Linked DNA regions of Homo sapiens. The protein of the gene in region 1 purifies or fractionates together with the protein of each later gene. This does not show direct contact. Each region holds a gene or a part of one and is shown in the gene's direction. Other genes may lie near its edges. The genes, in order: CPSF2, DUSP3 and CSTF3.

Region 1 (3,500 bases):
ATGAGCTGGGCCTGAAGACATTGAGCAGTGATGTCAGGGTGGCTTCCTGGCAACCTCCATTGCCAGTTAAGGCATTTGGTTTGTCTTTTCTCAAGCAGTAAGAAGCCTTCAGAGATTTCTGAGCAAGGGGTAATAGGTGCAGGGTATTTCTGAAGATGAATCTGGTAGCAATGTTTAGGTTGGATGAAGGGAGGAAATACTGGAGGCAGAGAAACTGAGAAACCCAAACATAAGGTAGTGAGGCCCTTCCTGTATTAGGGTACTGGCAGTGGGATAGAAAGGGAATGATGTGCAAAGCGTTCCTGAGGGAAGAATAATCAGGAACTGGTAATAATAGACTGTCCCAGAAGTGAAGAATCAGCATGTAGCATTTCAAACCTTGGTTACTTAGATAACAACTAATATATTCATGTCGCAGAGCTATAAAATACAATTTGAGACTGAAGAAATTTGGTCACAAGATAGAATCAGTAACGTTAGGAAGGGGTGGTCCACTAAATACTTTCGCTTTTTATCTCCCTGCTTTCTGTATCATCTCATCAATCATACACACCAGCTAATATCCCCAAAATACAGAATTACCTGTATCATGCCATCTTTCTACTTGATAATGAGTCTTAAAATGTTTCTGTTGCCTGCAGGACTAGGTTCACAGTTTCCAAGGCCTTTCACTATCTGGCCCCTTTCTGTTCATTAGGCCTTATCTTTTATTTTTTGCTTTTGTGAATGTTTTCCAGGCTAGTTTTTTCACTGGTACTTTAAAACTTACTCAAAAGTGTAGAGATCTGAGATGTCTGGTATTCCTTTACTCCTGTTACTCCTCTGTTTTGAGTACCTTCTCTTTGTTTCTACCCATGTCTTACCAATCCTTAGTGAGTAATCTTAAATCCCACCTCTTCTATGATTCTCAATAACATAAGGTAATGTCAACTTAAAAAAAAACTTCCTAAATATTTTTATGTCTTTTATTATCTGTTATGTAAGCTTAAGATTCCTAAAATTAATGACAGATCTCTTTTTTAAAAAAGGACCACGTATTATACTACTTGCTGCTGCTCCTGATGCCTTAGGGCAAGATACAAATTAAACACCATAATTATAAACAGAATGAAATCATAATACCACATTCATAAGGCTTTTATTTATTTTTTAGATTAATAAAGAACTCTTCAGAATTCCTGGTGTTTCATCATATATACGACTAAGATATCAGTAAGTAGTGAATGTTTGATAAAGATATAGCTTTATTATGAATAATTGTAGTGAAAATATCTTTTCATCTGTTGAAATCTTGGTCTGTCTGCAAAACAGTTTTAATATGAACTTACTCAGTTCTAGCTGCAAGATACCTTGCATGTTACTTCATAATCTAAATGAAGAAAGTGGGAATTAAGGAAGACTTAAGTAGAAAAGAGTTTCCCTTAGGCCATTAATATAATTGTGGTACAGTAAGCTTTTTGACAGGGATAATTTCCAAGGTCCTTTCCAAAATTGTATTTATAAACGTTTTTCATCAAATAGAGAATTAATGTCTTTGTACCCCAAATAAGAACACATGAAGGCCAGGCGTGCTGTCTCACACCTGTAATTCCAGCATTTGGGGAGGCCAAGGTGGGTGGATCACTTGAGCCCAGGAGTTAAAGACCAGCCTGGGCAACATAGTGAAACCCTGTCTCTACAAAAAATTAGCCGAGTGTGGTGGTGCGTGCCCGTAGTCCCAGCTACCCAGGAGGCTGAGGTGGGAGGATCACTTGAGCCCAGGAGGTTGAAGCTGCAAATGAGCCATGATTGCACCACTGCACTCCAGCCTGGGTACCAGAGCAAGATCCTGTTTCAGGAAACAAAAACAAGTCAATATATTTTAAATTTTAACTTACCAACAGTTATTTATTGAACAACCACTATGTGCAGGGATGTGCTAATGTACTAAGGATAAAAAAATGGATCAAGCCAACTCCTGTACTCAGAGAGCTCTCCCAAGCAAGGGCAAATACATGTGGATGGGTTCTGGTTTATGGTGTGGTAAGGACAGTGAGCTTATTTAATACTAGCCATGCCCCATTCCTTCCTTTAAGAAACATTTATCGGCTACCACTGTATATTAGGCACTGTGGAGGCGCTGGAATGTAACTGTGATGAAAACAGAGAAGGTCTTTACCTTCATGGAGTCTGCATTCCAGTGTGGGCACAGGAGGGGAGAAGGTGACAGACAAAGCAAGTAAATAAATAAGTAGCAATTAGAGAGCACTAAGTATTTTGAGGGAAATAGAATGATGTTGTAATGGATGTGAAGAAGGACTTTAGGGTGGTCAGAGAATGACTACCTCTGAGAATGACTCAGAATAAATTAGAGACAGGGAAAATATATATAAAAGTTAGAGGTTTTGGTCACAGTGAAGAGAGAAGAAAATTTGAGAAATATAATGAGTTGTTATGAAAGTATATCACTGGAAGTGTTTTATAAAGGTCATTGATAAACCTCTATACAACTTAAGCCAATGGACATTTCTCTGGCTTCTCAGACTTAGTGCAAATGGGAGGTGAGGAAGTGGAGATATATCTGTGGACAAATATTCTGAGAACTTTTGCTGTGAAAGGGAAACCCAAAAATGATGTAGTGGTTGTTGGGGGTTGAAGGGTTAAGAGAGGGTTCTTATAAGTTGGGAAATTCTAGAGTATTTTTATAAGCTTGTGGGAATGGTACATCAGTGATACGTTGATGCAGGGGAAAGAGCGAATGACTGAAGATGTCAAGTCTTTCAGAAGGTGAATAAGAATGGGATCAACGGCACACATAGAGGGATTGGCCTTGGATGGGAGCAGGACTATTCTATACAACAGGAGACCCAACAGTGTACATGCAGATAGGTTAATAGATGTAGTATCTGGAAAATGAGAAATTATTGTCTAATTTTATTTTCTGATTGAAGAATGAAATGAGATTATCAGCTGAGACTAGGGTGGAGGGAGGGATGGGTGATCTTTGAACAAAGAGGAGGAGGTGTGGAGTAGTAGTCTCAGAAACTGAAAGTCAACCTACTAAGAAAAGTCAGATTGAAGGGTAATACTTACGGCCTGTTTGAGGCCTTTGGCCATGAATTTAAAGAGCAAATAGCGTTAGCCAGGTGTGGTGGCAGGTGCCTGTAATCCCAGCTACTCGGGAGGCTGAGGCAGGAGAAATACTTGAACCCAGGAGGTGGAGGTTGCAGTGAGCTGAGATCTTGCCACTGTATACCAGCCTGGGTGACAAGAGTGAAACTCTGTCTCAAAAAAAAAAGAAAAAAAATGGGCCAGGTGGATCATGAGGTCAAGAGATCGAGACTATTGTGGCCAACATGGTGAAACTCCGTCTCTACCAAAAAGAATTAGCTGGGCGTGGTGGTGCATGCCTGTAGTCCCAGCTACTCAGGTGGCTGAGGCAGGAGAATCACTTGAACCCGGGAGATGGAGGTGGCAGTGAGCCAAGATCGTGACACTGCACTCCAGCCTGGCAACAGAGT
Region 2 (3,729 bases), on another chromosome or scaffold:
GGCCTTTTCACCATTCAGACCAATTATTATTTTTATTTTATTTTATTTTATTTTTCGAGACGGAGTCTCACTCTGTCACCCAGGCTAGAGTGCAATAGCACAATCTCAGCACACTGCAACCTCCACCTCCCGGGTTCAAGTGATTCTCCTGTCTCAGCCTCTGTAATCCCAGAGTAGCTGGGATTACAGGCATGTACCACCACACCCGGCTCACTTTTGTATTTTTAGTAGAGACGGGGTTTCACCATGTTGGCCAGGCTGGTCCCGAACTCCTGACAGGTGATCCACCTGCCTCGGCTTCCCAGAGTGCTGGGATTACAGGTGTGAGCCACTGCACCCGACCTTAGATAAATTATTTTGTAACCTCCCATAGTTCTGTTGGGGCCACTTACTCCCCAAGTACTAAATCACCCAAAAGAGCTTTGGAAACGTAGCCAGTGGAATGTGGCAGGTAGGATCCCTCTGGGGGCAGGGAGGGGGCTGCCTGGTACGTGACAAATTTATTCTTTTGCACTCATTCACCGCTTATTTATTCAGCACCTACTATGTAGCAGGTACTATAGCAGATGGTGGGGAAACAGACTTAAAGCAGACATGGTTCCTCTCTCAAGGAGCTCACAGTCTGGATGTCTAAACACAGAAGCACAATCAAGCATTAGAATCATAGTGCTCACTACCGTGTCCAGCTCTGTCAATGGAATAGCCCATTTAATACTCATAACAACCTCAAGGAGAAGGCACTGTTATCCCCATTTTACAGAGAGGGAAACTGAGGCACAGAAAGGTTAAATGGCTTGCTTAAGGTTGCCTGGCTAGTACCTGGGCAGGATGCAGACCCAGTTAGTCTGGTTCCAGAGCCCATCTGTAACCAGTTGGCTATGTACACCCCCACCACAGCTTAGGGAGCATGGGGCCAAATGGAATGGAGGGGAGACAAACACTGCGGAGGGTGTGAAAGATGAGAGGGCGCATTTCTCCAGAGAAGGTGGGAAAGAGCATTCCAGACAGAGGGGACAGCATGGCTATGAAACCACCAGTCTATTTGGGGAAGCTGCTGGCAATTCGATATGGCCAGAGTGAGGGAAGAGGTCATAAGATGAGGCAGGAGAAGCTGGCAGGGGCCAGAGCATGGAGGGTTTCCTTGCTTTGCTAAGAGGCTTAAATCCTTCTCCATCTTCCTCCCCCTGGGGCTGCCATTTGGTTGGTTAATCATCCCCACCACTGTCTCCTGTCCAGGTCTGTGGCTCAGGACATCCCCAAGCTGCAGAAACTAGGCATCACCCATGTGCTGAACGCGGCTGAGGGCAGGTCCTTCATGCACGTCAACACCAATGCCAACTTCTACAAGGACTCCGGCATCACATACCTGGGCATCAAGGCCAACGACACACAGGAGTTCAACCTCAGCGCTTACTTTGAAAGGGCTGCCGACTTCATTGACCAGGCTTTGGCTCAAAAGAATGGTAAGGGACCTCCCACCAGGAAAAGATGGGAGGCAGCTCTGACTGGACTGTCCCTCTGGAAAACAGGCCCACAACAGGTCTCTTCTTAGAAACTCCCTTGTTTCCCATCTTCTGGGGTGAACGACAGAGCTGTAGGTCTCTCTCTGCTCACCTGGCTGGCTGTCAAGTGGCCCCGTGTGTCACAGGATGTGCAACTCATTCACACCATGGCAGCCCCAGGGTCCTCGCGTTTGACTGCACTTTGGCTGGAGGTTGGTTTCCAGTTGCTTACACGTCCCCCATTCAAACAGCTGTAACGATGAGGAAGATGTGTTAATGTGTTAATGTGCATGGCAAGAAGTCCTGAGGTGAAGGAGCATGGGGGCTGGTTGATTAAGGGGCTGCTTGATTCAGCAGCTCCATGGTGGCCTCTGGACCAGGCCCTTTCCCTTTCTCTCTTCTGCCACCTCAGTGTTGGGTGCTCCCGTCATGGTCCCAAGATGGGATCCAGTCACCACATCCAAGCAGGACAAAGTACAGCAGATGAGGCCCTGCAGCCATCTCTTCCCACTCTTTTTTTTCCTCTTCTCTCTCTCCTTTTTTTTTTTTTTTTTTTTTTTTAGATGGAGTTTCACTCTTGTTGCCCAGGCTGAAGAGCAATGGCGCGATCTTGGCTCACCGCAACCTCCACCTCCCAGGTTCAAGCGATTCTCCTGCCTCAGCCTCCCGCCTCAGCCTCCCAAGTAGCTGGGATTACAGGCATGCGCCCCCACGCCTGGCTAATTTTGTATTTTTAGTAGAGATGGGGTTTCACCATGTTGGTCAGGCTGGTCTCCAACTCCTGACCTCAGGTGATCCGCCTCCCTCTGCCTCCCAAAGTGCTGGGATTACAGGCATGAGCCACCGCGCCTGGCCACTCTCTCTCTCTTTTTTAAAGAGACAGGGTCTTGCTATGTTGTCTAGACTGGTCTCCAACTCCTGGGCTCAAGCAGTCCTCTCACCTCAGCCTCCTGAGTAGCTGGGACTACAAGCACGTGCCACCATGCCCAGTCTCTCTCTTTAAGAACAAGTAAAACATTTCCCAGAAATACCCCTCACATCTCATTGGCTAGAGATTCACGTGATTGCCTGGCAAGGAGAAAAGGGGTAGCTGCGGTCAGCTTAGGTTGGCAGTCAGCAAACCACAGCCCCCCTGGCCAAATCTTCCAGCCACTTACGAAACACTTCCTGCAGCCCCCAAATATAAGATAAGACTGAAGGAGAACTACCAAGGCGCTGGCAGTCACCAAGGCATTCCAGCAAGAAACCCTAGAAGGCCACAAAGCAGACATCAGCTGAGCAGGCTGGGCCACTTGCCCTTTCTCCCTTTCTGCTTTTAGCTGTTTCTCTCAGCTCCTCCCTTTACCTCTTCGTCTCTCCCCACCCCAAACCCTCCCAGCGGAGGGGACCCCCATGAGGTGTGAACAGCCTTGGCTGTACTACACTGATGACTCTTGGGCCCAGCAGGCTCACTGTCTGAATGATTTCCAGTAAACAGAATTTTCTAGACCACTGGACAGTGAACGCTCAGGGCTCAGAGAGAAGCTTTACTGTGGAGTATCTGCAGACTTTGCTGACAGGCCCCTCATGGTCCTTCCTGGTCACTGTCACCCCCCAACCCTGCTCACCTCCTCCACTCCAGCTGTACTGAGTTCCTCACCCTGTGTAAACATAGGCTGGGCGAAGGGGAAGGATTTTGTTGTTCTCGTATAATAGCAATTGGTTATTCATTCAGGGAATTTCAAGCTCTCTGACTTTGTTTCCTCTTTCCAAACAACTAGGAACACGCCCTTTTTTTGACCTGTCTCAGTCCAGGTGTGCTGGGTCTTTAGTCTGAAAAGTTCTCTCTGCCTCTCCCTACCCCTTCCTCTGGCAAACTCCACCTTGTCCTTGGCATGGTGTCCTCTCTTCCATGAAGCCTGCCCTCAGGCTGGGTCTACTTTGTTCCTTGTCTGTCTCCTTAGCACCTGATGTAGCATCAGGCACATAGTAGGTACACTGCAAATGATGAATGAGCAAGTGATGAAGAATTCCATGGGCTCTAATGCCAAGTATAAATGCTTCTAAGAATGAGTGGCGAAGTGAGTCAACAGAAACATGCTGGCCTCCAACAGTGTGTGGGGCCCAGGGACCCATCACTGAGAGCTGGGTGGGATGGCTGAGGGTACTCAAGAGGGAGCAGTCACTTCTAGCTGGGAAAACAGCTTCATGGAGGAGGTGGCATCTGGGCTGAGCCTAGAGGAATGGG
Region 3 (3,729 bases), on another chromosome or scaffold:
GGTAATACTCTTATCTTTCTCTCTACTCTTAAATAGTTTTTAGATTATATTAACAAAGTGGTATTTGGAAAAAGTAGGCATCTTGAACAGTCTTCCAAACTGATCTACCCCATCCGCCATATATCTCAGTTGTTCCTGGCTCACCAAAGAATTCTAAATCCTTGTTGTCTAGGAATATGAGACAGTAATGAAAGGCTTGGACCGTAATGCTCCCTCGGTGCCTCCTCAGAATACTCCTCAAGAAGCTCAACAAGTAGATATGTGGAAGAAATATATACAGTGGGAAAAGAGCAACCCTCTTCGTACAGAGGATCAGACCCTTATAACAAAAAGAGGTAACATGATTAACCCTCATGGGACTTCAGTTACATGTATGTTAGGCCACTTGGTATCCCCATAGGTTACTAAAATTTTCTTACCCCTAATCTTTTTTTCTTTTGTTCTTCAGATTCAATAATTCCTATAGATCTATCTCCATATTCACTGAACCTTTGTTTTCATCATATGCAGTCTGCAATTAAGCCCATCCAGTGAACGCTTTATTTCAGATACTATATTTTTCAATTCTATAAATTTCCATTTTAGAAATTTTTTATTTTTTATATTTCTTTTTTATGGTGTCCATTTCTTAGTTGAGATTCCTTGTGTGTTCATTACCATCTTTTTCTTTGTTTCTTAGAACATATTTATAATAGTAGTTATAAAGTCCTCATCTGCCAATTCCAACATCTGGGCCTTCAACCACCATGGAGTTTATTTTCTTTGATTGCTTTTTCTCTTGACTGTGGTTTACATTTCCCTATTTCCTGTTTAAATTTTTTCTTTTAGATATTGTACAAATGTACAAATGAAACATTGTAAAGACTGTAGATTCTGTCATCTTCCTCTGAAGAATGTTTTATTTTAGCAGGAAGTTAAATACTACTGTCAGATTACTTGGACTTTGTGGAGGCTTAGTTTTATACTATGAAGACAGGTCTGTTTTAGTTTTACCATTAATCTCAGATTAAATACCTTATTCTTGGGACATAGTCTTTACTCCTAAGACAATGAAAAGTCTAAGGTGTTTACCCCAACCATCTAATTGGATCGGACTCAAATTCTAAACTTCATCTCCCTTAGTTGCTGAGGTATCTATTTAACTCTTTCTGCCTTCCAGCTTTGTTTTCTGCTGGTCTGTTTGTATTCTTCCCTGTGTATGTACATTTTAGGGATCAGCTGAGGATTTGAGAACATTTATGCCCAGATTTTCGGGATCTGGCTTTCTCCTTTTGGGGATGTCTCCTCAATTTCCAGCTGCTCTCATAGGCCAGAACTCCATGTTACTTCAAGACAGTAAGACTGCAGCATTTGACTTGAGTTCTAGCTATCCCAGAAGTGCACAACATGGGCATGCGTTTGAAGGGAAAAGCCATATTTAAATATGGATCTCACCTAGTGTTGTTCTGTCTTTTTAAGGGCTCAGTCTCCTGATTTCTGCTTCTTTTGGTCATTTCCAGTACATTTAGATAGTTGCTTTTGTATTTGTGTTTTGTTTATTTATAATTTTTACTTGCTGAGGGTTGGTCTGATACAAACTACTCTGTCAGTGCCAGACTCTTAATTTGGAGCTTTATTGAATTCCTCAATCTTGCCTTGCTGTTGCCTTGCTATCTTACTTGCAGGTCTTTGCAAATATTGTTTCCTTTGCCCACTCCATTTTTGTATCTACCCCATCCTTACTCCACTTCACTTATTTGCCTCTGACCAGCTTCATCCCTTCTTCAGGTGTTGTGCTAGATGTCAGTTCCTTAGTGAAGCCTTTCTTGAGTCCCTAAACTATGTTAAGTCCTGCTGCTGTAAGTTTTCAGAGTATACTGTACTTTCATCATCATAATCCTTTTGATCTTTGCTTTCTGTCTGTCCTCCCCGTATACTGCAGACTTCTTGAATATAGGAAGTCTTACTCACTGGTATATTCACCGTGCCTTCCACATTCCCTGGCATATAGTTGGTGCTCAATAAGTATTAACTTAGGCTGGGTGCAGTGGCTCACATCTGTAATCCCAGCACTTTGGGAGGCTGAGGCAGGAGGATTGCTTGAGCCCAGGGGTTCAAGACAAGCCTTGGCAACATGGTGAAACCCCGTCTCTAAACAAGATTTTTTTTTTTTTTTTTGAGATGGAGTCTTGCTCTGTTGCCCAGGCTGGAGTGCAGTGGCGTGATCTCCACTCACTGCAAGCTGTGCCTCCCGGGTTCATGCCATTCTCCTGCCTCAGCCTCCAGAGTAGCTGGGGCTACAGGCACCCACCACCATGCCTGGCTAATTTTTTGTATTTCAGTAGAGACAGGGTTTCACCATGTTAGCCAGGATGGTCTCGATCTCCTGACCTTATGATCCGCCTGCCTTGGCCTCCCAGAGTGCTGGGATTACAGATGTGAGCCACCGCACCTGGCCACAAGATTTTTAAAAATAAGCCAGATGTGGTGGCACACGCCTGGTCTCAGCTACTTGGGAGGCTGAGGCAGGAAAACCACTTGAGCCCAGGAGGTCGAGGCTGCAGTGAACCATATTTGTGCCACTGCACTCCAGCCTACGTGACAGAGACCCTGCTTCCAAAAATAAAAAAAATTAATAAGTGATGGATAGATGGAGGGAACTTGGATGGATGATGGTGCCAGAAATCACTAAAGCTTTTTATTTCTAATTATCATTAATTTTTGAGGAGCCTAATTTGGTTATGATATTTACATTGATAGTTTTACAAATAATAATTATTTTAATTGAATATTGTTTGTTAATTTCTTCCCTTAGTTATGTTTGCTTATGAACAGTGCCTGCTTGTGCTGGGCCATCACCCTGATATTTGGTATGAAGCTGCCCAGTATCTTGAGCAGTCAAGTAAACTGCTCGCAGAAAAGGGAGTAAGTGTTCCTTCCCTATCCCCACTTTGATATTTTTGTGGTTTTGATATAGCAATTATTTACTGAAAAATATAACTGAATTTTGGTAATAAAGCATAAGTATTGAAAATTTAAGTTTACGTTCATATGAATCTTAGTGACACTCATATAATTAGACCTCCTTAGAATTAAAATAAACTGGCAGTTTTTTAACGTATCAAAGTAATGAATCATTTAGAGTACTTGCATGGTTATTTTGTAAGTTAAAATAATGAAAGGAGTTTTTGGAATTTTTTTAGAATCCAGAAATGCATATGTGTTTATGTATGTGTGTGTGTGGATACATATATATGTGTGTACATACATGTATGCTTTCTTAGACACATAAATAAAATAAAGTAGATGTAACTTTATTAATTTTATTCTCTCACAACTATATTAAAATTATTGAAGATGAGCTTTCTTTTTTTTCTACCAGGATATGAATAATGCCAAATTATTTAGTGATGAAGCTGCTAATATATATGAAAGAGCCATAAGCACTTTATTGAAGAAGAATATGCTTCTTTATTTTGCATATGCAGATTATGAAGAGGTAAGTAAAAATGTTTAGAGCCTTCTTATAATTCAATTTTTTAGTGCAGGACTGAACTTTTTTTCTGGCTGCTTGTTTGCCAGGCATATTGCTTTTGGTAGACAGAGATGATGCCAAATGAACAGTTATTAGTTGTCAGCTTATACTATATTTATGCTCAATGGAGATGCCATTGGGGGTGGGAGGTTATAGCCTTTGGATTCCTTGGAGCTCAAATCCTGCTTATTTATGACCATATGTTGATACTCACT

The links.
Region 2: the proteins of CPSF2 (region 1) and DUSP3 purify together in Homo sapiens (affinity purification with mass spectrometry; one large-scale study listed by BioGRID and IntAct). This does not show direct contact.
Region 3: the proteins of CPSF2 (region 1) and CSTF3 purify together in Homo sapiens (affinity purification with western blotting; one study listed by BioGRID). This does not show direct contact.

What each region holds. Positions count from the first base shown.
Region 1 is NC_000014.9:92,124,969-92,128,468, forward strand, and holds part of CPSF2 (cleavage and polyadenylation specificity factor subunit 2), read left to right. Parts: intron 1-1,153; 5' UTR 1,154-1,212; intron 1,213-3,500. UniProt on the Homo sapiens protein: Component of the cleavage and polyadenylation specificity factor (CPSF) complex that play a key role in pre-mRNA 3'-end formation, recognizing the AAUAAA signal sequence and interacting with poly(A) polymerase and other factors to bring about cleavage and poly(A) addition.
Region 2 is NC_000017.11:43,772,446-43,776,174, reverse strand, and holds part of DUSP3 (dual specificity protein phosphatase 3), read left to right. Parts: intron 1-1,236; coding exon 1,237-1,463; intron 1,464-3,729. UniProt on the Homo sapiens protein: Shows activity both for tyrosine-protein phosphate and serine-protein phosphate, but displays a strong preference toward phosphotyrosines. Specifically dephosphorylates and inactivates ERK1 and ERK2.
Region 3 is NC_000011.10:33,098,783-33,102,511, reverse strand, and holds part of CSTF3 (cleavage stimulation factor subunit 3), read left to right. Parts: intron 1-172; coding exon 173-335; intron 336-2,794; coding exon 2,795-2,904; intron 2,905-3,361; coding exon 3,362-3,478; intron 3,479-3,729. UniProt on the Homo sapiens protein: One of the multiple factors required for polyadenylation and 3'-end cleavage of mammalian pre-mRNAs.